Homo sapiens: one gene and its partners. The protein of the gene in region 3 interacts with the protein of the main gene of each other region in a pairwise test. Each region holds a gene or a part of one and is shown on either strand. Other genes may lie near its edges. The genes, in order: DRD2, SLC10A1 and ARL6IP6.

What was found.
Region 1: the proteins of ARL6IP6 (region 3) and DRD2 interact in a two-hybrid assay, tested with the Homo sapiens proteins (one large-scale study listed by BioGRID and IntAct).
Region 2: the proteins of ARL6IP6 (region 3) and SLC10A1 interact in binary tests that used the Homo sapiens proteins (3 or more experiments, as listed by UniProt).

Annotation. Positions count from the first base shown.
Region 1 is NC_000011.10:113,416,306-113,419,964, forward strand, and holds part of DRD2 (D(2) dopamine receptor), read right to left. Parts: intron 1,832-3,659; coding exon 1,722-1,831; intron 695-1,721; coding exon 558-694; intron 1-557. UniProt on the Homo sapiens protein: Dopamine receptor whose activity is mediated by G proteins which inhibit adenylyl cyclase. Positively regulates postnatal regression of retinal hyaloid vessels via suppression of VEGFR2/KDR activity, downstream of OPN5.
Region 2 is NC_000014.9:69,777,514-69,780,335, forward strand, and holds part of SLC10A1 (hepatic sodium/bile acid cotransporter), read right to left. Parts: intron 1,848-2,822; coding exon 1,669-1,847; intron 1,017-1,668; coding exon 820-1,016; intron 1-819. UniProt on the Homo sapiens protein: As a major transporter of conjugated bile salts from plasma into the hepatocyte, it plays a key role in the enterohepatic circulation of bile salts necessary for the solubilization and absorption of dietary fat and fat-soluble vitamins.
Region 3 is NC_000002.12:152,759,665-152,762,962, forward strand, and holds the end of ARL6IP6 (ADP-ribosylation factor-like protein 6-interacting protein 6), read left to right. Parts: intron 1-82; coding exon 83-176; 3' UTR 177-2,732; downstream 2,733-3,298.

The DNA of each region.
Region 1 (3,659 bases), on a different chromosome or scaffold from region 3:
GCGGGGGCTTTGTGTTGCCTCTGTCTGAGACACTCCTGACTCTGCCTCCCACAGAAATGGGCATGTGGTCAGCTTACCTCCTATTCACTTCTAGCTTTCCTGCTCCAGGTGGCTAAGGCCTGACCTGGGTTTAGCAGGCCCTGAGGGCTGCAGCTTCATTACAAAAATACTATTGTCAGGAGTGGATGGAAGCCCAGTAGCCTCCGCCATCCCATGTTCATGTGCACATATACACACATGCAGTTTGTGAAGCACGTCTTGCCTCTTCAACTTAATAACCAAAGTTGAAAATTCCCAGACATACCCCTGAACCATTATCCCCACTCCTCATCCAACTCCGTTGTGTCCTGGGCCACTGTTTCCTCTCTGCCAACCTAGAACAACTCTTGAGTGGGGCTTGGCCCAGGACACGTAGCCTGGACTCAGTCCAGGGTAGTGATAGGCCTCCATTGGGCCTCCACCCATATCTGTGCCAGGGACTCTGCTCCCTCAGGGCCCTTCGAGGGAGCAGGGGCCCAGGGCCAGCTGAGCCTCAGGCAAACAAAAGCAGAATGTACCTGCGTTATTGAGTCCGAAGAGGAGTGGGCAGGAGATGGTGAAGGACAGGACCCAGACGATGGAGATCATGACGGTGACCCGGCGCTTGGAGCTGTAGCGCGTATTGTACAGCATGGGCATGGCCACAGCTGTGTACCTGCAAGGGCGGGGGACCCTGAATCTGGGGTGCAGGCCCAGGGACCCCTCACTCCACAATATGCACACACCAGAGACACCCTCACTCCTTGGGGCTAAACAGTTGACACACCTCTATGAAGCTTGCCTGAGATGCTAACTCAACCCTCCCTCCTGTCCCCAAACTCAGATGGCGAGGACAGTTGGCAAAGCCCAAACACTTAATCACTGGTGAGCTATTGTTTACTCTTAGCTCATATCTATTATTCTAACCGGCCCCACCTGGATTTCAGGCTTTTCGAAGAACCATGGCCTGCATCTTTGCACTTTTGAAACTGTACCCACTGCACTTGTGTTGAGCCCATAAGGTGGAAATGTTTGTTGATAAATTGTTAGCCAGGCCCCTCAGAGCAAGATTTAAGCCTTAGTTAGCAGGAAATAACAATGGCAATTGTCTACAATCCTTCATCACATTTTTTTTTTTACCCAGCCCTTCTCATTCATTAACTTATTTCATCTTCCAAGAATGGTGTGAGGGAGGTAGGGTCATATCTGTGCAAATTAGTGGAAGGCTCCAAGGATGCAGCTTAGCAAGGTGTGCATGGCCTGGGACCCTTGGCCATGTGCCAAGGACATAAAATGCATAACCAGATACTGCAGCTCCAGGCCACAGGTGTCATCAATGTAGGTTTCTAGAAAATGAAACTGAGAGCTCTGAAAACGTCCATCATCTGCCCAAGGTCACATGAGTAAGATGTGCTAGAGCTAGGGCTTCCGTCAGAATCACAATCTTTCCCCTTTTGTACCAGTCACTGTCTGAGTATGCTTGGCAGCATCACTGTCCATAGATGGCTTCTCTTTAGGGAGTGTGTGCTCTCCTAGCCAAACATACACACATGCACACCCATACACACAAACACATGGACCCCCATGCACACAGCCAGCTGCACAGCATCACAGACACGAGACACAGCCTGGCTTTGAGAAAAGCTGGGGCAGCCAGAATGGTGAGTGGCCAGAGCAACCTCTTCCACCCTGGCTGGGCTCACCTGTCGATGCTGATGGCACACAAGTTCAGGATGCTCGCCGTGCACATCATGACGTCCAGAGTGACGAAGATGTCACAGTGAATCCTGCTGAATTTCCACTCACCTACCACCTGGGGACAAAGCAACATAATGGATGGACAGCAGGAGTGGGAGATTAGCTTAGGTCCTGTAGCCTGGTACTCCTGGAGCCGATGAGGCCACAGACTCAGGAGGCAGCTGCAAGTCTTGTGGGCATCCAGCTGGGGTGTGGGGAGTGATGCCCATGGGTGTCTGAGGCCCTTGCCCCTCGCTTATCTTCTCCCAGATACATAAGACCACTTATTGCCAATTACTGTGCTAGAAGAAAGACAGCCAACTTATACGGAGGGCCTCAACTTTAAACCTTAATCTCTGCAACCTTTGTTAACCCCATGTGTTTTCTTAGATTCTGTATTTGTGTATTTGGCACCCATTCATCACAGAGACACCTATATTGACTATATTTTTCTATCTTCTCTGATCCTGATATTCTGGCACTTGGGAGCCTCACAGACCCAGAGAGAGACTTACTGTCCCAGAGCTAGTTAATTCCTGAAGACAGAAAATGACTGACTTGGAAGGATGCCTCTCAAATGCAAGCCAGCCACCCCGTTTCTCTAATTCACACACACACCAAGACAATATTTCCCCTGTCCCAAATTATCTCAGGTACCAGAGAGACAACTAGAGATCACCCCTGTAGCCCAAAGCCTGCCAGGATGTTGAGACTAGCCAACCCTAGGTTGCTTAATCTGCCCTGCCTTGCACTTCCTGTGGGAGCCCCAACAGGGCTGTAGCCTGGGCTTTCCCTCACCCCTGATTCTGACTCTTGACCCAAGCCTGCTGCTTCCCCCTGCACCCCACATGGCGGGCTGAGCATCTGGTTTCTAGGGACATTGTGTATCACGTTAAACTCTTCCCAATGGCACTGGCTTCCCTGTGTTATCACTCAGCCATACCTCTGTAAATTAGATTCCAGGTAAAATTTTAGAATGCCCGTGAGGAAACTGAGAACCAATGAGGAAACCAAGCCTCCAAAAAGTGCAGTGATTTCCCCAAGGCCTGTGGGCTCAGTTCCTAGTCCTGCTCTGGCCCAGGCTCTGGCTGAGCCAGGCAAGCCCTTCAGTGGTTGGCCCAGTACATGGCAGAGTCGGGGCCCCAAAATGATCTGTTAAGAATAATGGTGAAGATGAAGACTCGCCATGAAACAGAGAAGAAATTTCTGCTCCTTCTTATACCCAGAGAACGAAAGAAGGCAGATCTGGGCTAGTGCTCGAGGAACACCCGAGTGGGCTGGGGTAGGCGGAGGGGTTGCTGTGATGAGCTGTGTCCTTGGTAGGATGGGAAATGAAGAGTCTAGCTCCTGGCAGGAGCACGTTTCTCATACACACATGCACACAGGCACACACACACACACACACACACACATGAACGCACCGCCCTCCCCCCTCCCCACGTAACACCCATTCACACACAGGCACACACTCATGGCAGATTACGCAGGCACACACTCACGGCAGCTGTCCCTAGCGCTCTGGAAGCTTGGAGCAGCCCCAGTTCCCTGAGGATGGAGTCAGGACAGGGAGATGCACCTTTGGCTTCTACCAATAGGAGCAGAGAGGAGCGTGAAAGCCCCCTCCCGCAACCCGGAGTAGGGCAGACTTCGTGTCACCGTGTAGCTTGGCAGCAGGGCTAATTATAACCTTGCTCATTCTGATCACTGCCCTCTCTTCTGCTCCTAGGCATCCAACCAAATGCTGGCATTTAAGCTCAATGATGGGCAATGCAGCTGCTGTCATCCTGTGTGGCAGAAACAGCAGCTTGCCCCAGAACACAGCAAGCCTCTCATGCGGCACTGTCTTCCTGGGAGCTCACATGGGGGCCCCGTACCAGGGCCTCTCTCCCAGCTCCCTGTGCTGC
Region 2 (2,822 bases), on a different chromosome or scaffold from region 3:
AGGAAGAATATACTAATGTTGAGAGTTATAATGAAATGTGTTATAAAGTGGGTTTGAATGTCCTGTTTTTTTTTTTTTTTTTTTTTTTTTTTAAAATTGGTGTTAAAGTGCACTTTGAGGAAGGCACTCTGTTCTCTGGTCTGTCTTGAGGTTCAATTTTATTTTGAAAGGTAATACTCTGAGCATTTTAGAGAAGAGATGCTATGTTAACCCCATAGTGATCAGAGTAAAGTATAAATCATATTAAGTTTATTGTGGAGGTAGTTACTGTTTAACAACCGTATGCTTAAGTTTCCTTTACTGCGTAACTAGAGTTGAGGAATCTTTTTTTTTTTTCTTTATTCTGGGTTATATTAGGGTGCATTGCTTTCATATGTTTTTCCTCATACGGAGGTGCCAGTGGTGCTGTGGCTCTGATCTGGTTCCAGGAAATGAGAACCTAGTCCTGAGAAATGGAAACTTCCCCAACTCTTGCGAATAGAGGCCTTTCACACAACTAATAACCTCAGTTGTCCAAGGCAGTTTTGTCCTATGATGTCTCCCCACTGAGACAAAGCAGCCCAAATTGCTTCAGTTTTATGAGGTAAACTGCATCTGCAATTTCATTCTCCCAGCTAGAAGGAAGAAATGGAGTGCAGTTGATGGAAGTAGTCTTGGATCTTTAATGCTTCTTGGGTGCTTCTTGGGGCTACCTGGTTCTTAGTGACTTGATAAGAGTTAAAGCCCTATCCAAAAAGTCCCTGCTAGAAACTTGCTTGTTGGCAGGCTCAGGTCTAATATTGGAGCAGAACTTGAAGTGGGGATAATTTCAGTACTCACCCTTGGGAGTCTTGAATTTCTCATAGCACCAAAATATGGCAATGAGGAGAAGCCCTTCTCCAAGCTGGAAAATCATGTAGAGGAGGGGAAAGAAGAAAAGTGGTCCAATGACTTCAGGTGGAAAGGCCACATTGAGGATGGTGGAACAGAGTTGGACATTTTGGCATCCAGTCTCCATGCTGACAGTGCGTCTGCACCTGTGCCGGTGAAGAAAACCCCACATACACTCAGAGGGAACTGGAGGGAGCAACTTTGTCCCAGTGCTGCTACCAAAGAGTTTCGCAGCAGATGGAATCTAGACCCTGGACAGGGGTACTTTGCTATTGCTGCTGGTGTTTGGATACCTTTGGTGTCTGGATTTTTAACCCGTTCAATACCTTCATTCAATTTTTTTCAAGTCTAAAGTCTCTTGTCCAGTTAGTGCATCTGAACATATTGCCAGGAAAGTGTCTTGCCCAGATTTCAGGTTCCTAGCTTCTTATTCGTTTCCTGAAAGACTAGGACAAGAATGAAGCCCATGGGACAGTGGGACCTAAAATAATACCTATCTCCAGGCATGCAGTGGCTCACACCTGTAATCCTAGCACTTTGGAAGGCTGAGGCAGGTGGATCACTTGAGCTCATTAGTTCAAAACTAGCCTGGGCAACATGGTAAAACCCTGTCTCCAGAAAAGTTAAATCAGCTGGTCATGGTGGCTTGTGCCTATAGTCCCAGTTACTTGGGGGGCTGAGGCAGGAGGATCAGTTAAACCCTGGAGGTTGAGGCTGCAGTGAGCTGAGAATGTGCTACTCCCCTCCAGCCTGGGCAACAGAGTGAGACCCTTTCTTAAAAAAAAAAAAAATACCTACCGTCCATTGAGGCAGAAGAGAGCAGAGAGAACATAACCCAGCAGAAAGCCAATAAAAGGCATCAGGGAGGAGGTGGCAATCAAGAGTGGTGTCATGGCAAACATGATGCTCTTCCCCACATTGATGGCAGAGAGAACTGTGACGGCCACACTGCACAAGAGAATGATGATCATCCCTCCCTGGGAATGAAGACAAGAAAAGGCAATTAGAAGAGTTGGGGATAGAGAGGAACAGAGGTGGGGAAGCACAGGTAGAAATTGGAGGTGGGAAACATTGCAATAAAACACTGGAAGTGGAAAGGAATATGAAAGACCTTTATCTTCTTTTTGGATTCCTTTCTTTAAATTTTTTTAAAATTATTAACATTAGAGACAGGGTCTTACTATGTTGCCCAGGCTGGTCTTACTCCTGGACTCTTAGCGGTCCTCCTGCCTTGGCCTTCCAAAGTGCTGGGATTACAGGTGTGAGCCACTGCACCCAGCCCATCTTTTTAGATTTCGTATCAGTAGCTAGGAAGCTTGGGGACAGCTGATTAACACTTTGATTATTACAAACTCAGCCAAGCACAGTTACTGCTTTTGACACATCTCTGGATAGCAGACTTTCAGTGAAGTGTTACGTGAGGCTATTCAGGACTCCTGCAAAATGGATATTATTTAAAAGTCAAGTATTTTTGGAACTTATATACACATTCCTACAATACTGTCATTGTTCCACATACTTTGAAACTCATGAGAACTTGTCATACATATTTGTCTCAAATACCTTGATTACAGATAGGGATTTTATCCATTTTAGGATCAATTCTGGAAATTGCCAAGAGTCATTTGAAACAAAGCTGGTAAACAAGGTGGATGATCAAGCCCGGAAATACGGTTTTAAACCCAAAATGATGTCTAATAATAAGGGGACAAACCTACTTTCTTGAGTGACCTGCAAATTGAATATGAAGGAAGTTCCCAAAAGAACTTTCAGAAATATCTTGGGTGATAACAACATCATTGGAAACTATGCAGGTCTACTCTGAATGAAATTATAGGGTTTTTCATTGTGCAACATAGGATGCAACCTTTCAAAGTGCATGTGCACTCCATGCACTTTGTACTTTCCAGTGTGCATTTTAGAGAATTGCGTCCTCCAAAATGATAAACAGG
Region 3 (3,298 bases):
TATTTTCGATGAAAACTTTTGGTGTCTTTGTTATACCACGTTACATTTTTCTTTTTTGATTTGTGTTTTTCTTTTTTTCTAGGAAACTGACTGGACATTCTTTCCACATGGGCTATAGCATGGCGATTTTGAATGGCATCGTAGCTGCTCTTACTGTAGCATGGTGCCTCATGTAAACCCACACTGGAGCGATATTGTTGGCAAAACTTAATCATGATTGTTTTGTAATAACAAGAAGGAGCATCACTGTCTACTCAGAAGACTGAGAAACCTGCTGTTCATTATGTAGTTCAGATATTTATCACAATCATCCTCATTATGGAAGACCTTTTAAAGCATTGTTTTAGAATGTCTGAGTATTAAGATACAGATTAATTGGGAATATCTGAGTATTAAGTACTTTCTTCAGAGTATAAGATGTTTACCTCATCTTTTTACTTTTGTGTGTGTAGTTCTTTCAAGTTGTAGGAAACATTTTAATGGAATTTAAACTCAAAAACTTGAATACAGGACAATGCTTGCCTTTTCATGTATGTACTACATTTTTTGCTAAGAAATACTGATATTTCTGTTTAGTTGAGCTAGAAATACTTCTTATTTATACATTTAGGAAAGCAAATAATGCCTACTACTCCGACTTTTATAGAAGCTACTTTTAAATCAGAATATTTAATTTTTGATATTCATATAATTAATAGAAGTTGCATTTATATTTTTTATGGGGCATAGTTCCTTATGTGTTTTTTTAATGTATTTTCATACTACATACTGAATTTGTATGTTTTTAAAATTGTTACATCTAGACAACTGTAAACATTATTTTTTTAGCTAGTGCAAACCTAGTACCTGCCATTTTTACTAATTTTTGTCTTTAAAAAAAGCAAAAAAGCACATTGACCTAAGTTGAAAATTAAGTAAGTTTATTTTTAACAAAAAATGCCTGAAAAAAGCTAAATTATTTAAGTCATTAAGATATTGAGAAAAAATTTGAAATTTTTACTATTTCTGTTTCCACAATTCCAAATATTTATCTTGGTGTATATATTGTTACTTTAACAGAACTTGCATTATTTTGTTTTTAATAAATATAAACATGAAATTTTTGTATGTGAGAATGATTGAACTAGTTTGTTCTTAATCTCAAAAATTTAGTTACCAAAGTAGAAAAGGTATTTTGATACTAGATATTAAAAACTACATATAGTTAATATAATTTTATAATTTTTGTAATTAAATGTGCTCCTGTAATTGTGATATTTTGTTTTCTAAGTAATTAAGCCTTAATTTTTCCCCTATGTTACTAAAGACTTTTAATGTTTAGAAAGTTACCTCAGTTTTAGAAAGATGGACTACTTACAAAGCTGTTTTCCCTGGCCATAGGAAAACTTACAATAAGAAACCATTAAGTAGTCAAACTGCTTATTCAGGCTAAGTGGGAAATGAATTTGTGCAGTGTGTTCCCTTAATTATCTACTGAATGTTGTTACCGACTAAACAAGGTTTCTAAAAGTCTCGCATTTCTTTTACTATTCAAAACTCTTTGGTTGGAAATGACTAATACTGCTCCAATTTAAATTATCTGAAATGTGTGTGTGTGTGTGTGTATCTAAATATCAATCCCATGGCTTAAGTATTCCTACCAGAGTGGTGGTTGCCATCAGTCTATTTTCACTCCCTGCCTTCCTTCCTGCACGCTTAAACTCTTCACCCTTTGACTCCAAAGAGCCCTTTCATTGCAAAGATGTACACAAGTAACAGAATCAATTTATCTTCTCTCCACCACTCTGTATTCCCACGCACCACCAATGTGAGTAACTCCCTCCAGATTGTTTGTGTCTAATGACTAGGAAAGTTATTAACAGTAGACCCTAGATAGAGATATGTACACCCTAGACAGTCATGTGCCATATAACAACGTTTTGGTCACAACGAACTGTACTTATGATAGTGAATCCCCCCGTAAGATTATACTGCTGCATTTTTTACTTTATTTTTTCTCTGTTTAGATACACAAATATTTACCATTGTGTTACAGTTGCCTGCAATATTCAGTACAGTAACATGCAGTACAGGTTTATAGTCTAGGAGCAATAAGCTATACCATATAGCCTAGGTGTGTAGTAGGCTATACCATCTAGGTTTGTGTAAGTATACTCTGATGTTCACACAATGATGAAATTGCCTAATGACGCTTTTCTCAGAATATATCCTTGTCATTAAGCCAAACATGACTATATATACCTACAAGATATATATTAATATAGATAAATATAGAGAGAGATGTATCCGTAAGATATTTTTGTGGAATCCTAATTCTTCTGGACTGTTACTCCCCTTTTTTGGGAAATGACCCTCCTCTCTCCAGTCTGACACAGGGTCCAAATATAAATCATCTATATGCAGAATGATTAGGCAAGGATAGTCACCTAACTCTGGCTGAGCTAATCCTAATCTCATTTTGCCTGGCTACAATGAGTAGAATAGAGAAATGACTTCAGTGAAGTATGTCTCTTCCCAGGATTTTTCAGCTTGAAATTAAGATGTGACGAAGCTGGGAAAATGCAAGCCCAGGAAATGCTGGCAGCTGTAGTTCAGCCAGGCTCAGTGGGAAAGAATAAGGCTGATAACGGATATTGCTAATGGCGTTACCCTGGTCCCTGAAGCCCAGTGGCAATCCTGCCATTCTTGATACGTGAGTCAATAAATTTCTGTCTTTTGGCCTTTGCAGTTTACATTGGCTTTTGTCATTTGCAACAAAACAAGTCAAAATGAGCTTATCTAGCAGCTGGAATCCATCTCTATTGTGAAACTGACTCAGATGATCTCATCTCCTTATGTGTAGCTTACAGCATTCTATTTAGTTACTTGTGAAAGATAAACGGGGTGTAAGTATTCCTGTGGCTAGTGATTAGTCTCAGGGACTTGAAAAGACATTTTAGAATAAATTAAACTATTATTAATCTTGCTGTTTCATCAAGAAATTATGTCCCCAAATTCAGTTCCACCTTAAGTGTTATCAGAAAGAATATTACTGTAGTTATCAAGATATGATTCTTTAGTTAATACAACGTAATGAGTTTGAACTACAACTGTTACTTAATATCTTAGCATTTCCCGGTTTCCTTACCTGTCGAATGGGAAGAATAATACTTAACAAAATACTTAAACTACAGTGAAAATACTACATGTCAGAATTTGTAGGACCTAGATAAAACACTGTGTAAGGGTAATTTATAACTTCAAATACATTTATCAGGACGAAAGTACTATTGAAAGCTAAAGAGCTAAGAATGCAGAT